Linked DNA regions of Homo sapiens: region 2 is linked to region 1. The links come from fine-mapping of genetic effects on gene expression. A gene starts in region 1. The other region holds a variant in brackets. All regions are shown on one strand. Distances are from middle to middle.

Region 1 (2,500 bases):
ATGTGTATGTGTGTTGAGGAAGGATGTAAAAGGTACATCTTACTGTGAGTCATTCATTAATAAAGTTTAAAATACATAGACCTCAAAGGCTTTTATAAAACCCAAACTGCCAGTCCCTGGGCCAGAAGCATTGATGCAGTGTTTTGTCTGGGACTTGAATCCTGTATTTTTGATAGATTCCCAGGCAGCTCTGGTGATCAGCCAGGTTTGGGAATCACCTGTTAGAGGAAATGGCCCTCAGGCGGGGTCTCCTCACCTGTGCTCCACCCCGCCTCTCCCTGGTCAGGACAGGAGAAGATTTCTAAGAACTTGACAAAGCAAGAAAAGTCACACCGGTTACACATAAAGCAGGGCGCAGGCCACCCACTCTGCCCATCCCCAACCCCGGGAGAGCTGAAAGCCCCAAAACTGGCAACTGAGGTTTGGGTTTCCATCTCCAGCTCTGTCAGAAAAACAAACAAACAAAAATAACCCCAGCAAAATAAAATCACTTTAGAGTCAGCCAGATCTGGGTTCCAACCCTGGCTCTTCTAGTTACTACCTATGTGACCATGGGCAGGTGTTACCATCTCTCTGAGACTCAGTTTCCTCACTTTTTTTTTTTTTTTTGAGACGGAGTCTCACTCTGTCCCCCTGGAGTGCAGTGGCATGATCTCGGCTCACTGCAACGTCTGCCTCCCAGGTACAAGCAATTCTCCTGCCTCAGCCTCCCAAGTAGCTGGGATTACAGGCACCCACTACCACACCTGGCTAATTTTTTTTATATTTTTGGTAGAGACAGGGTTTCACCATGTTGGCCACGCTGGTCTCAAACTCCTGACCTCAAGTGATCCACACACCTCGACCTCCCAAAGTGCTGGGATTGCAGGTGTGAGCCACTGCACCCGGCCATTCTTCACCTTTTAAAATGGGAATCCAAATGCCTCAATAAACACCAGGCCAAAAACAGGGTGCTCCTTTATGTTAACTCCTTTTCTGGCCTCCACTAAATCCCCCTGTGGGCTTAGGCATGCTGTCCTGCTGGGCTTTGGTTTCCCTGACCGTGAGAAAGGGTTTGTGAAATTAAGTAGCCGTCTGCAGGGGCGGAGCTGGCAGAGGTTGTTACTAACGGGGATCACACTGTCCAGCCTGCATGGTCTGTACTAACAGGAGCCTGCCATCCCCATTCCTTCACAGCTCCTGCTGCCTGGGCACAAATGCCCTGGAGAGTGAGTGACTGTCAGACCAGCCGGAGGGGAGCAACGGGAAGAGCCGCTTGCTGAGAAGAGGTGGGCTTGGCAGGACTGCAGGTGGAGTACTCTCCCCAGTCCCCTGCAGGTGCTGGTCTAAGCCAAGCTGGGAGGATGGCGGCCGGCCCTGGCCCAGCCCCAGGCAAGGGAGGAGCCTCGGCCCAGATGGGGCAGGTGGGGAGCCTGGGCTCAGGTGTGTCCTGTGGGAAGTGATTGCTCCCTGGCTAGCAGAGACAGAGGAAAGCGGATTGTTGGCCCCAGGACCCAGCTCTGAGAGGCTGGGCTTGTTTCCCTGACTCTGCCTTGGAGGAAAGCAATGGAAGGGGTAAGGCTGTCTCAGTTTTGTTGCTGGCTTTCTGTGTGTCTTTTCTTGCAGGACAAGTTCCTCCCACTTGAGAGCCCTGGGGAAAAACTGCTTGTGTGTGCTGCCTCCTGGGCAGGAATAAACATGTCAGGTGTCAGCCAGTGCATTTCTGCTCACACTGGCTTTGCTCAGGGCGGGTGGGAGGGAAGAGGAGTGTGCCATGTCCTGTGCCACCTGGAGTGTGAGGGGACAGGAGGTGCTGAGGAATGACAGCATGTGGCCTAGCTCTACCCAGCCAGCTGGACTCCTGACCTATTCCCAGATCCTCCGTTGAAGCGCCCGCTGGCTTCTCTCTGTGTTTACTTGCCCTTGTGGACTGTATCTGGCCTCTGCAGTGATTAGCGGGCCTCCTGGTCAGAGAGCAGTGCTTGGTGCTAGGAAGCCGGCTGTGCATTGCTCTTTTGTGGCTTGTGGCTCTAGACCGGGTTCTGCTCCTTGTTAACTGTGTGGCCTGGGGCAAGTGTGTCCGTCATCCTGAGCCCTGGGTCCCTCACTCATGAAAGAGAATTACTGGTACAATAACTACTTTGTGAGACTATCAGAGGTGCTTGTATAAATAGAGATGTATGGAAAAGTATCCTGCCCTACGCCAGCATTCCCTGCCCCTTGGATGGCTGAGTGCTGTTGGCACAGTTGGAGACGTCTTGCCTGACTGACCACATCTTCCTTTTTCCTTCTCCAATTCTCCACTCTCCTCTATTTCCGTCTTCAGTAAGTCAGTTTCTTTTGATGTGCGTGTGCATGTGTGTGTGTGTGTGTGTGTGTGTGTGTGTGTGTGTGTGTGTGTTGCTTCCATACTTTTTATTATATATTTGGAGTCAAGTCATTTTCTCCCATGAATCATGTGGCTTCTCACCCACAAGTTTGGTTTTAAATCAGGGCAGAGGATCCATTTTAGCTTTTGCTG
Region 2 (3,029 bases), 33 kb after region 1:
AAGATGAACATACACTTTGGGACAAAATGTACTGCTGTGCTAACATTTGTTTTACTGTGGCCATCAGCACCAGCAGATGGCAGGTACACTGAGACAGCTAACACAGTCTTTGTTCATTTTAACTGCTTTGGGCAACTTCATGGTTAAATTACTCTGACTTCATGATTCTCAAACTTGAGTGTACATCAGAATCACCTAGAGGACTTTTTAAAACATAGATTGCTGGGCTCCATTCTCAGTTTCTGGTTCAGTTGGTCTGAGTTGGAGCTTGATAATTTGCCTTTTAACAAGTTCCCAGAGGTTGCTGAGGCTGCTGGTCCATGGACCACACTTTGAGAACCACTGCTACAAGTCATCTTAAGTCTTATCCTAAAAGAAAATTCTATATGGGGAGATAGGCTCTTATAAGTATACTTTACTGATATGGACAGCTCCAAATCAAAGAAGGATAAGTGTGATTTTTATAAACATTAAATAATTCAGGCCTCAAATATTCTCTCTGAATGAGAAGAAGGTTTGTCAGCAACATAGAACAAAGTACTAAGTCTTTTGCCATAAAATGGGCTTTGTAGATCCCAGCTTCTGAACTCACTAGCTATTTAAGTTTGGGTTTGTTAATCACTGAGCCTCATTTTCCTTATCTATAAAATAGGGATAATTTCCTTATCTGTAAAATGGGGATACCACTGATCTCTTAGGATTATTGTGAGGATAATGAGACATGATGCCCGGAAAGGGCTTAAATAGTGCTTGGTATACCAGGAAGTGCTCTGTAAATGTCCAAGTTTATTTGAAACAAACATTGAGCAGCTATAATCTCTGTACCATGTCCTGTGATGGAAATGAGAGATTAAGAGATAAACCCCACAGGGGTTCTGGTCTTTAAGGAGGTCAAAGTCTAATGCAAGAGATTGTACCCATAAATAAGAAATTGTACTGTAAAGTGTGGGTGAGTGCTGCAATGCAGGGACAGGCATCCCCTGGGTGCTGGGGTGGAGGTAAGGGATGTTTCAGGCACAGGCAAGCTTCCACTCTCCACATTATCTGTGGGATCAAGTCATCACACAAGCATCATTCACTTTAACCAGGCTGCTGCAAATGCCTCTTTTTCATTCCGCCTCTTTCTCTTGCAGTGACTGTGGAAGAGGGCTCCCTGTCTCCAGAGAGGTAAGTACATGCTCCTTAGTTGTGTAGGAACGTAGCCCACCACAGAGGCTACTTAGACTGCTCCAGAGCAGGCAATTAGCACAAACCAAGAATCTGTATTTCTCAGAAGGGTTTCAGAAGCAGTGAACTTATAAGCAACAAAGTGTAACTTTTGTTGTAAAGAAAAGATTAAATAAATTGCATTTAACACGTACTGATGTTAAGTTGCAAAGATAGTCCTCAGAGGTCCTTTTTTTATTACACACTTGGGTTCAGTAAATTGAAACATCACCCTTCATAGTCATAAATTGAATTAGAGGCTAAAGAATGCTCTGGGCAGCTGGTGTGATGTTAGGAATTGGTAATAGGATAAA[G/A]GATGTTCTATTTTTGGTGTACTCCTTCTAAGAATTTTGCCACAGAAGTGTCAGTTCATTTAACTCACTTAACCAAATAATATCTATTGAGACCTTTGATGTGTCAGGCACTCAACTGGCTACTTTATACAGATTTCTCATTCTGTTCTCTCAAGAGGGCTGCACAGTTGCTGCTGCCGCTCACATTTTACAGCTCAAGATACTTGGGCTCAGAAAGTTTGCCACTTGCTGAGCCATGATTCCAACCCAGATGTGCCATAACTACACTGATTATATACCTCACCTCCCACACAAAGATGTTCCTGTTCTCAAAAAGGTTAGTCTCAGAAGGAGATCCAAACTTAACAATAAATAATCATATTACTTATTCCTTTATCAAATGTTTACAATGGTAAAGTGTGTTAAGTTTTGTAATAGAGGAAAGGACAAGATTCAGAGGCTGCACTAAGGAGGAAGTTGTTACATCTTCTTGGGAGGGTCAAGGAAGTCTTTAAAGAAGTATCAGTTCTCCATTGCTAGAGTAATGCTACATAATAACCAAAAAACTTTCATAGCATACATGAGTCTGTGGAGTACAGCTGATCTGGGCTGGGGTCAGCTGGGTTTGCTCATATGTTTGCAGTAGACTGCAGGCTATCTAGGCAACTTTGCAATATTGGCTGGGGTGGCTCACATGTTGAGGGGAAGCTTAACAGTTGGCTGATCTAGGATTGTGTTGGCTGGGATGGTGGGCACCTTGACTTGGCACCATCTGTCTCTCCTCATCCAGCAAGCTAGCCCAGGGGCACTCTCCTACAGTCGCTGCTAACAAGCAAGACAAGCCCAATCACACCAGTACTTTTCAAGCCTTTACTGTGTTGCAGTTGCTGACATCTTATTGGTCCAAGCAAGTAATATGGCCAAGCCCAGAAGCAGAGTGGGAGGGTGCTGAAAGTTTCATGGCAAAAAGCAGGGATGCAGGAAGGAGTGAAGAATGGGGTATTGATCCAGTCAACCTATCCCCGAAGAGGAAACATTTGAAATGAGTACTGAAGATGCACATTTGCAGCACAGCATGGGAAGGGACACTCTAGGTAGAGGCAGGAGGTGTGAAGCAACATGTTTAATTTGTGGAAACTAGAAATAAGTACACTTAGAGTGTAGAAAGTATAGAAATGGTATAGAAACGGGATTATAGAGGTAAACAGGAACCACATCACAGAGGATCTTGTACAACAGGGAATTGATAAGACAATCTTATTCAACAAGGAACTGGTAGTGTGGTGTTAGACGCAATTCATGTGCTCTGGGAACTCCTGGGTTAGTCATCCCTTTGAAAGAGTTAAATGACAGCACAAGACAGGTCAGTGGAGACGTGTTCTATGCGTATTTATGTGAAAGAGAGAGAATAATCTAACTGGCTCAGGCAATGGTTTGCACCGTTTACTCAATGAACATAGGTCCCAGTATGACAGTGTGAAGGGACAGTGTTCTGCTGTGCTCTCACTTGCTCTTTGTTCTTTCATATTG

Which allele goes with the higher level. Positions count from the first base shown, and alleles are read on the strand shown. Sizes are in standard deviations (SD) of each study's normalised expression.
As copies of G replace A in region 2, the expression in skeletal muscle of the gene that starts at base 1,432 in region 1 goes down (small effect, 0.23 SD a copy in GTEx).

What was found.
Region 2: its variant is fine-mapped to the expression of FYB2 in skeletal muscle (GTEx, PIP above 0.99).

The regions. Positions count from the first base shown.
Region 1 is chr1:56,818,336-56,820,835 of GRCh38, reverse strand. It overlaps FYB2 (FYN binding protein 2), which reads left to right and starts at 1,432. Exons shown (of 20, transcript NM_001004303.5): 1 at 1,432-1,554. The coding sequence starts at 1,546.
Region 2 is chr1:56,785,313-56,788,341 of GRCh38, reverse strand. FYB2 (FYN binding protein 2) reads left to right here. Exons shown (of 20, transcript NM_001004303.5): 4 at 1,134-1,167. Among named protein-coding and RNA genes, the nearest start is that of FYB2, 33 kb to the left of the region's middle. The variant G/A (reference allele first, on the strand shown) is at 1,521.